2 separate regions of the Homo sapiens genome follow, and region 2 is linked to region 1. Evidence: fine-mapped expression QTL. A gene starts in region 1. The other region holds a variant in brackets. All regions are shown on one strand. Distances are from middle to middle.

What was found.
Region 2: its variant is fine-mapped to the expression of ZNF575 in whole blood (INTERVAL, PIP above 0.99).

The regions. Positions count from the first base shown.
Region 1 is chr19:43,530,603-43,535,967 of GRCh38, forward strand. It overlaps ZNF575 (zinc finger protein 575), which reads left to right and starts at 2,586. Exons shown (of 4, transcript NM_174945.3): 1 at 2,586-2,919; 2 at 3,193-3,300; 3 at 3,735-3,899; 4 at 4,427-5,365. The coding sequence starts at 3,821. The coding sequence ends at 5,085. RefSeq lists silencers at 553-724, 2,692-3,001.
Region 2 is chr19:43,561,529-43,566,893 of GRCh38, forward strand. All of the region lies in intron 2 of XRCC1 (X-ray repair cross complementing 1), which reads right to left. Among named protein-coding and RNA genes, the nearest start is that of XRCC1, 11 kb to the right of the region's middle. RefSeq lists an enhancer at 1,557-2,057. The variant C/T (reference allele first, on the strand shown) is at 2,513.

The DNA.
Region 1 (5,365 bases):
CGTGCCCAGCCAGATTTAACCTATCTTAACCAGGCCACTTTTCTGTTATCACACCCTCTGCCCCATTCAAGGGGCAGCAAAGCATAAATGCAAATTGCCTGGACTGCAGGGCCAGGCTGAGGGATTCAAATCCTGGCTCTGATACTTCCTGGCTGGGATGACCTTCCCCTCCACACTTCATTTTCCTCCTCTGTACAAGGATGATAGTAGCACCTCCTCTTAAAACATTGCTATGGGGATTAAATAAATTAATGCACATAAGGACAGTTTCCAGTGTATAATAAGTGCTAGCAATTAATACTGTAATTAATATATAACAATACCCTCACTGGTCTTCTGGCTTCTACTCTGCCTTCTTAAAATCATGGTTCTTGAAAATAGCTGTGGCCCTAGAGGTTGGGCGCGGTGGCTCACACCTGAAATCCCAGCACCATGGGAGGCCGAAGTGGGCGGATCACCTGAGGTCAGGAGTTTGAGACCAGCCTGGCCAACATGGTGAAACTCCATCTTTACCAAAAATACAAAAAAAAAAAAAAAAATTAGCCAGGCGTGGTGACGGGCACCTGTAATCCCAGCTACTCAGGACGTTGAAGCAGGAGAATCACTTGAACCTGGGAGGTGGAGGTTACAGTGGGCTGATATCTCGCCACTGCACACCAGCTTGGGTGACAGAGCAAGACTCCGTGCAAAAAAAGAAAGAGGTGGGCACAGTGGCTCACCCCTGTAATCCCAGCACTTTGGGAGGCCAAGACGGGTGGATCACGAGGTCAGGAGATCGAGACCAGCCTGGCCAACATGGTGAAACCCTGTCTCTACTAAAAATACAAAAATTAGCTGGGTGTTGTGGTGAACACCTGTAATCCCAGCTACTTGGGAGGCTGAAGCAGGAGAATCGCTTGAACTCGGGAGGCAGAGGTTGCAGTGAGCCAAGATTGCGCCACTGCACTCCAGCCTGGGGGACACAGCGAGATTCCATCTCAAAAAAAAGAGAGAGAGAGAGACCGAAGTGTCACTTCAAACTAATACAATGTGTGGAGCTCATTTAGATCTTAAGTCAAGCAAATCAAGTGTAATAAAAAGATATTTATGAGATATGATGTTTGACATTTAGCTTCAGAATCATTTGGGAAGAGTGGATGGGGGGTAAATCAAACAATACTGGTCATGAGTGAATAATTATTTTAAAAACTTTTTTTTTAAAGATACGGGGTATCACTCTGTTGCGCAGGCTGGAATGCAGTAACACAATCATAGCTCATTGCAGACATGAACTCCTGGGTGAGTCCCCACTCCCTACCCCCGTGAAATAGCTGGGACTACAGGCTGCCATTAAGCCAGACTTTTTTTTTTTTTTTTTTTTTTTTTTTAAGATGGGGAGGTGTCTCACTATGTTGCCTAGGCTGGGATTTTTGTTTGTTTGGGTTTTTGGTTTTTTTGTTTTTTTGAGACGGAGTCTCACTCTGTTGCCCAGGCTGGAGTGCAGTGGCTTGATCTTGGCTCACTGCAACCTCTGCCTCCCAGGTTCAAGCCATCCTCCCACCTCAGCCTCCGGAGTAGCTGAGATTACAAGCGTGTGCCACCATGCCTGACTAATTTTTGTATTTTTAGTAGAGACGGGTTTTCACCATGTTGGCCAGGCTGGTCTCGAACTCCTGACGTCAGGTGATCCGTCCACCTCCGCCTCCCAAAGTGCTGGGATTACAGGCGTGAGCCACCGTGCCTAGCCCCCGTCTAGTTTGGAAATCCTGGGCTCAAGTGATTCGCCCGCCTCTGCCTCCCAGAGTGCTGGGATTACAGGCATGAGACAGGGAGCCCGGCCTAGGCACTTTCTAGTCTAAACACTTTCCATTGATTATCATATTTAATCCTAAAAACGCTCCATTTTATAGATGAGGAAACAGGCCTAGAAAGAGAGCTAGAAAGGGTCACACGGCTAGAAAGTGGCACAGCCGTATTCCAAACCAGTTACCCAGGCAATCTGGCTCCAGAGTCCAAATAACCCCGCCAAACTCCCAGGGATCGCCAGACCTTGCGGGTTATCGGACTGAGACCCACCCATGCAGAGGACTTTTATGGGCATTTCCTGGTCCTTTCTGCACCAGGCAGGAAGGTGCACCGCCACTGCTCGGGAAGAATGCTAAGCTGCATGCCACCCCAGGCCTGGCACCAAGAGCATGGGCCAGGGCACCTCGGGACCACCCAGGCTTCCGAGGGGGAAGGTAGATGGGTGCGTGGCTGAGAATCTTGAATCACCCAATAGCGAGGTGTGCCAAGGCGCTGTGCAAATAACGTGCCTTTTATTGGGCACTGGCTCTCTTTGAGCCCGGAGTCCCGCCCCCGCCCTCTCTCGAAGAACTGGCCAGACTTTTTGCAAACGCCTTGAAGGGTAGAATTAGCAGCGAGCTCTTGAAACTGCCTCTGGAGATGGAACTCAGCGGAATTCTCGAAAAGAAGAGGGACATTAAAAAGACGGGTGCATGCACTGATTTCCAAGCGCAGTTTGTCCATGTTAGTCTTGTACATGCTTGACTCCAGTCAGCCACCGTAGGCCCCGCCACCGGCGGTGCACTTTCTGTCGATACGGTAGCTTCGCGCTTGCTCACGAACTTGCCTGCCTGGCTGGCGCACCCAGCCCCTCCTTCCATTCCTTCTTCCCCCTCTCTGCAGCCTCTGCCAGCCCGCACTGCGCATGCTTTCTGACGCCCCCTTTGGTCCAGCGTGGGAGGAGGGGATGGAAATGAGGTTGGGCTAAGCAGCTTGCGCGCGCTCCCTTGCCTGCCCTCCCCCGACGCCGGACGCGCGCCGGGCGGGGCAGCTCCGCTGGTCCGAGGGCAGTGCAGCAGCGGCGACAGCGGCTGCGGCCGTGGCCGTGGCGGGAGGAGCCGGAAGCCCCGCCCCCGGGGAGGGGCCGTCCTGCAGGTGAGGGCGCAGGGGTTCGGGCGCGGATATTGGCTTGCAGGCTGAATGCCAGAATCACCCCGAGGGAGATCGGTTGTGGTCCGGACGCCTAGATTCTGGAGATGCTGGAGGGACTGTGCATTGGTGCCAGAGCCTCGGGAGGGTGCATCGGTGCCTGAATGTCTGATTCCGAGGGGTGCATTGAATCCTTTACGCTTGGGACTCTGAGGGAAAAGTCCATTAGGGGTCTCTGGACCGCGACGCATGCCAGGTTCCTTCCGTATCTTCCTCCAGGTCCCCCCTCTATCCTCCACGGCCCCATCCAAGCCAGGGATGAAATTTAACGGCAAGAAGGGCGCAGTTGACGCGGCGTCAATGAACTGAGACTAAGTCAAAAGCCGGGTAAAGCTAGGTCTTCGACGTGAAGCCCCGCCCACTGTGCCCATAGGCCCCTCCCCTGGGACGGTGATGAAAGACCTGCCCACTCCGCTCGAAGGCCCCCGCCCCCTGGGTCTAGTTTCAGAACAAGACTTTTTTTGTACAGCCCCGCCCATTCCAGGACTGCAGGGTCTGGTGGGGAAGGTCCCGCCCACTCTGCGCATAGGCCCCGCCGGCTCCGCGCTTAAGACGGCCGCTGAGTTAGTTGTGGAGACTCCGCCCACTCTGCTGAAAGACTCCAACCCTGGGTTTAGATAGCGAAGGGACTGCCTCTGGCTTGAATTTGCATAGCCCCGCTCACTGTGCTCTTAGGCTCCGCCTCCCCGCTAAGCCTGCCCCCGCCTTAGCATCCCATACTTGCAGACCTTGCTCCTAAACAGTGTGATCCCTCATTTTAGGCCCTCCAACCCTATCCCCATCAGCCTGGTCATCACCGGCGTCACCCCCGCCCCGCGCCCTGCCCCTAGGTTCCTGTGCCAGCAAGATGCTGGAGCGAGGCGCGGAGTCCGCGGCCGGGGCTACCGATCCTAGTCCCACTGGCAAGGAACCAGTGACCAAAGAAGGTGAGAGTGCCCCGCCTGTGAGTAGGGAGCATTCTCCAGGAACGGGGGCCAAAATAATCACATTCTGGGGGAATCTCAGGGTGAAAATTTGAGGGCCCTAGGGTGATGACTATTTGGGATCCCCAAAACTGCCACATTCTGGGAAATCCTCCCATTTGGCTCAGAGAGAGCCTCAGTGACCATTTGCTAAGGCTCAGGAAATGAGCCTTACAGAAGGGACGGGTCAGGGATGACATGCGGGATGTCAGGGTGATCACTGGGAAGATACTAGAAACGGATACCTTGGTAGCTTTGAGGAAGCCTTAGTAGCTTTGGGGATCCAGGAAAGTAACCCTTTGGAGTCCCTCAGAATGACGCCTGGGGGGAGGGGGGAGCAGAAACATGCAATTTGGGGAGTCTCAATGTGATGCTTGAGGTGCCCAGGTACACTTGGAGGAGCCCCACGAATATCAAAGTCGTGGCGGAGCCTGGCCTAGGCCCAGGGCGTTGGCTGCTTCCTGGAGCCCACCAGCCCTCCTGTCCCCCAGCTCCCCACCAGGGCCCACCGCAGAAGCCCAGCCAGTCAGCTCCAGGGCCCACCGCGTCCGCGGGCTCGCCTCCCCGGCCTCGCCGGCGGCCCCCGCCCCAGCGCCCGCACCGCTGCCCCGACTGTGACAAGGCCTTCTCGTACCCGTCCAAGCTGGCCACGCACCGCTTAGCACACGGAGGCGCCCGACCCCACCCATGCCCAGACTGCCCCAAGGCCTTCTCCTACCCCTCCAAGCTGGCAGCCCACCGCCTCACGCACAGCGGCGCCCGCCCGCACCCGTGCCCACACTGCCCGAAGTCCTTTGGCCACCGCTCCAAGCTGGCGGCTCACCTCTGGACCCACGCACCCACCCGCCCCTACCCGTGCCCCGACTGCCCCAAGTCCTTCTGCTACCCTTCCAAGCTGGCGGCCCACCGCCACACGCACCACGCCACCGACGCCCGCCCCTATCCTTGCCCGCATTGCCCCAAGGCTTTCTCATTTCCCTCCAAGCTGGCCGCCCATCGCCTATGTCACGACCCCCCAACCGCGCCCGGCAGCCAGGCGACTGCCTGGCACCGATGCTCCAGCTGCGGCCAGGCCTTTGGCCAGAGACGCTTACTGCTCCTTCATCAACGCAGCCACCACCAGGTGGAGCACAAGGGGGAGAGAGACTGAGCCCTCCCTTGGCTCACTGTCCCCTTCTGCCGCCAGCCCTAGCCAGTAAGAGGTGGGATTTCTAAGACCGACTGTATGAGCTCGCCTCTTCCAGATAGCTGGCAGAGGGCAGGGCAAGGGATTGGCCATTTATACTGGGCTCGAGCTCAGAAGCCCGAGGAACTCTTTGCTCCCCTGCTTTGGGGAGATCTCAAACCATGGACGTGGAGCTGTGGTTTGACAGCGCTGGCTCTGCTTCTCCCCACACACTTACATGGCAAAGGTAAAAAGTCTGCTACTA
Region 2 (5,365 bases), 31 kb after region 1:
GCCTCAGTTTTCTCATCTGTAAAATGGGAATGACCACCATATCTAGGATCATGCACATAAATAATGGCCACAGGGCATGGCGAAGAGTAGGCAATTATCTGCTGTCAGTCAGGAGGTATTATTAGTCAGTGCTAGACAACTATTTGTTGAAAGAAGAAAAGAGCTACCTATAGGAGGGCTCATCTCAAAGGATCTGCCATTCCTGTCTGACAGATGAAGATGCAGAAAGCCGTGCGGGCCATGCGGGCACGGGAGGCAGTTAGGTTGAGGCAAGTGTCCTGCCTTCCAGTTTGGGGCTCTTTTATTAGGATCCTAGAATGACGCATTATTACAACTCTCAAAGGTACCTGGGCCAGGTGCAGTGGCTCAAGCCTGTAAATCCAGCACTCTGCGAGGCCAAGGCAGTGGACCACTTGAGGCCAGCCTGGCCAACATGGCAAAACCCCTTCTCTACTAAAAATATAAAATATAGCCGGGCATGGTGACACATGCCTGTAGTCCCAGCTCTTCAAGAGGCTGAGGCACAAGAATCTCTTGAACCTAGGAGGCAGAGGTTTCAGTAAGCAGAGATCATGCCACTGCACTCCAGCCTGGGTGACAGAGCGAGACTCTGTCACAAAAAAAAAAAAAAAAAAAACCAAGGTACCTAGTCCACCCTACACTGCCCTCTCCCACCCCTGGTGATGACAGATGCTCCAATCTGCTCTGTTGCCTCCCTGTCAGATCATCTAGACATCACCTGCACACTGCTATCAACAGGAACACCACTGTATGGAAGGAGGGAGCCTGGACTTGGGGTGAGGTAGGCCTGGGCTCAAATACAGCAATGCCATTTCCAACCTGCACAACCTTGGGTGACGTATTCAACGTCTCTGTGAGGCAGTTTCCTCACATGCAAAAAGGGAAGATGGTCATTAACAACCCTCCCTCCTTGGCCAGGCGCAGTGGCTCACGTCTCTATAACCAGCACTTTGGGAGGCTGGGGTGGGAGGATCACTTGAGGCTGGGAGTTCAAGACCAGCCTGGGCAACATAGCCAGACCTTGTCTCTACAAAAATTACAAAAATTAGCAAGGCATGGTGGCACATACCTGTGGTCCCAGCTACTCAGGAGGCTGAGGAAGGAGGATCGCGTGAGCCTGGGGAGGTCAAGGCTGCAGTGAGTCATGTTCGCATCACTGTACTCTGGGCGACAGAGTGATGAGACCTTGTCTTCAAAAAAAAACTTACCCTCCCTCTGAAGGAAGTTGAGATGACACAGAATTAACAACTATAACCACAACTGCGGCCAACATCCGAGTGCACTGAGCGCTCCTGGTGTGCCAGACTCCTGCTAATAATACATGTATCTACTCTCCTGCAATGGCTCTGCCAGGCAGTTGCTATAATTATCTCCATCTTACACATGAGCAAACGGAGGCAGGAAGTGGTTATGTAACTTCACAGCTGGTGGGTGGCAAAGCCGGACCGGAACCCAGGCAGGCTGGCAACAGTCCACGCGTGCTCCTCCATCACACCACTGACGTGCTAGAGGAGGAAGATGGTGCTGGAGGAAGGGCCTGCCTAAGGCTGAGGCCGGCAGACCTCCTGCTGACTCCCCTGCCTCCACCGCCATTCCCAGCCCTGGGCCCTGGGCAGTGTACAGTGCTGCCTGGGCTCATGAGATGTCCCAGTCTGGGCCAGGTGTGGTGGCTCACACCCGTAATACCAGCACTTTGGGAGGCTGAGACAGGTGAATCGCTTGAGGTCAGGAGTTTGAGACTAGCCTGGCCAACATGGTGAAACCCTGTCTCTACTAAAAATATGAAAATTAAAATTAGCCGGGCATGGTGGTGAGCGCCTGTAATCCCAGATACTGGGGAGGCTGAGGCAGGAGAATCACTTGAACCCGGGAGGCAGAGGTTGCAGTGAGCCGAGATTGTGCCACTGCACTCCAGCTTGGGCGATGGAGTGAGACTCTGTCTCAAAAACAACAACAACAACAAAAACAACAATAACAAGAAGTCCCAGTCTGACTGCTCCCCAGGCCAGGCTTGGTGACTTTCCACCAGCCACAACGGCCTCCCTTCTGTGCCAAGAACAGTCTGGCTCCTTCCCACCTCAGGGCCTCTGCACCTGCCAATCCCCCTGCCTAGACCACTCTTCCCTCAAACATATCCATAGCTGGGTAAAAGTTTGCCTTCTGTGCTTCAGGTGCCCACTCAGATGTCACTTCAGACCATAAGTAACCTACCTCGCCCCCTACCTGGTGCCACTCTCTATCTCCCTACCCGACTTTACTTTTCTTCATGATTACTGCCTGGTGTTACACAGTTACATCTTTTTTGTTTGTATTTGTCTAGCATCTGTCTCTCCCGCCAGACTTTTAAGCTCCACAAGAGCAAGGACAGTATCGTCTGAGTTGTTCCCTACTGTGTCCCCAAGGCCAAGAACAGTGTCTGGTCCTTCCCAGCTCTGCTGATTTCCTGCTGTGTGATCCTGGAGCAAATGGTTTCATTTCACCCCTTGTGCCT[C/T]AGTTTTCGAACCTATGAAATGGGGACAATAACAACGTCTATCTCATAAAGTTGTTGAGAACATTCAAATCCATACCAAGAATGAGAAATAACATACCAAGTGCCTGGAATACTGCCTGGCACCGAGCAAACACTACATAAATGTCAGCTGCGAATATCATTAACACAGCAGGCCTCTACTGCATTCCCAATGGATGTACAGACAGACGCAGAACAGGCGCCCAGCAACCGTTTGCAGAAGTTACTACTCAAGAGTTATTAAGCAGTAACTCTGGCTCTGTCCTCCCTTACCAAGTGGCCCTGTTGAGCCCCTTCTCTGCTGCTTGCCTGGGTGTCCCATCTGTCACAAGAGGATCATCATGGCTAACATTTTCGGATTCTCACCATGTGCCAGGTGCTTGGTGTATGAGTTTCCTGTTACTGTTGTACAAATTAGCACAAACTTTGTGGCTAAAAACACAAATTTGGCCAGGCGCAGTGGCTCACGCCTGTAATCCCAGAACTTTGGGAGACTGAGGCAGGCGGATCACCTGAGGTAGGGAGTTCGAGACCAGCCTGACCAAAATGCAGAAACTCCGTCTCTACTAAAAATACAAAATTAGCCAGGCGTGGTGGCGCATGCCTGTAATCCCAGCTACTCAGGAGGCTGAGGCAGGAGAATTGCTTAAACCGGGGGGGCGGAGGTTGCAGTGAGCCGAGATCACACCACTGCACTCCAGCCTGGGCAAGAAGAGCGAAACTCCGTCTCAAAAAAACAAAAAAAAAACACACAAATTTAATATCTTACAGATCTGGAGGTCAAAAGTCTGAAACTCGGCCTTACAGGGCTAAAATCTAGATGCGGCAGGGCTGCATTCCTTCCTTCCGGGAGCACTAGAGGAGAACGTGTCTCCTTGCATCTTCGGCTTCTCGAGGCCACCTGCCTTCCTTGGCTCACAGTCCCTTCCTCGTCTTCAAAGCTGCTGAAAGCGCTGGCATCACTCCAGGCTCTGCTTGCATCTTCACAGCTCTGGTTCCAGCTCTCTTGCCTCCCTCTTTCCCTTATAAGGCCTCTGGGGGTTACGTGAGGCCCACCAGATAATCCAGGGCACTCTCCCCATCTCAAGATCCTTAATTTAATCAAACCCACAGAGCTCCTTTGGCCATTAAAATATTTCCAGGTTCTGGGGATGAGGACATGAACATCTTTTGAGCACCACTGTTCTGTCCACCACACTTGGCTAAGCATGGGCCGGGCATCACTGAAGCCTCAAAACCACTTTAAATAGAAGGGTCTGTTACGACTCCAGTTTCACAGATGGGGAAACTGAGGCTCAGACAGGTTTAATCAATAGCTTACATGGCACACAAGCTAATAACTAGCAGAGTACTTCGGACGCAACTGCCTGACTGCAAAGCACTGTCCAATACCACCACTGTTCTCAACTCCTTTCTTTCCATCCCTGAGTCAAACTCAACATCTTTACCTCTCCCACAATATTCAGCATAGCTCCTAAATGTGGTAGGATGGAGATGCTTGTATTTTAAATGAACAATTCCTACTGCATATATAACTATTTCTACTTTAAACAGGCACTCCCTGACATTTCTTCTTTGTATATAAAAAAAGTCCTGGCTAGGAGCACTGGCTCACGCCTGTAATCCCAGCACCGTGGGAGGTGGAGGCGGGAGAATCACTTGAGGCCAGGAGTTCGAGACCAGCCTGGCCAACATAGCAAAACCCTGTCTCTACCAAAAATAAAAAAAGTTAGCTGGGTGTGGTGACACGCACCTCAATAATCCCAGCTACTCAGGAGGCTAAGGCACAAGAATTACTTGAACCTGGGAGGTGGAGGTTGCAGTGAGTTGAGACGAGCCACTACACCCCAGCCTGGGTGATAAAGTGAGACTCTGTCTCAAGAGAGAAAACAACAGGCTGGGCACAGTGGCTCACACCTGTAATCTCAGCACTTTGGGAGGCCAAGGCAGGCAGATCACTTGAGGCCAGGAGTTCAAGACCAGCATGACCAATATGGTGAAACCCTGTCTCTACTAAAAATATAAAAATTAGCCAGACTTGGTGGCGTGCACCTGTAATCCCAGCTACACAGGAGGCTGAGGCCAGAGAATCACTTGAACCTGGGAGGCAGAAGTTGCAGCGAACCGAAATCATGCCACTGCACTCCAGCCTGGGTGACAGAGTGAGACTCCATCTAAAAAAAAAAAAAAGTGGCCAGGCACGGTGGCTCAGGCCTGTAATCCTAGCACTTCGGGAGGCAGAGGTTGGCAGATCACAAGGTCAGGAGAGTTCAAGACCAGGCTGGCCAAGAGGGTGAAACCCCGTCTCTAGTAAAAATACAAAAATTAACCAGGCATGGTGGCAGGCGCCTGTAATCCCAGCTACTCGGGAGGCTGAGGCAGAGAATTGCTTGAACCCAGGAGGCGGAGGTTGCAGTGAGCCAAGATCATGCCACTGCATTCCAGCCTGGGTGGCAGAGCAAGACTCTGTCTCAAAAAAAAAAAAAAAAAAAGTAAATAAATACTTTTTAAGAATCTGATAAAAATGTTTATACATGGAGGCTGGGGTGGTGGCTCACGCCTGTAATCCCAACACTTTGGGAGGCCAAGGCAGGTGGATTTCTTGAGCCCAGGAGTTCAAGACCAACCTGGGCAACACGGCGAAACCCCGTCTCTACTAAAAACAGAAAAATTAGTTGGGCATGGTGGCATGCGCCTGTAGTCCCAGCTACTCAGGAGACTGAGGCACGAGAATCACTTGAACCTGGGAAGCAGAGGTTGCAGTGAGCCGAGATTGCACCACTGCATTCCAGCCTGGGCAACAGAGCAAGACTCAATCTCAAAAAAAAAAAAAAA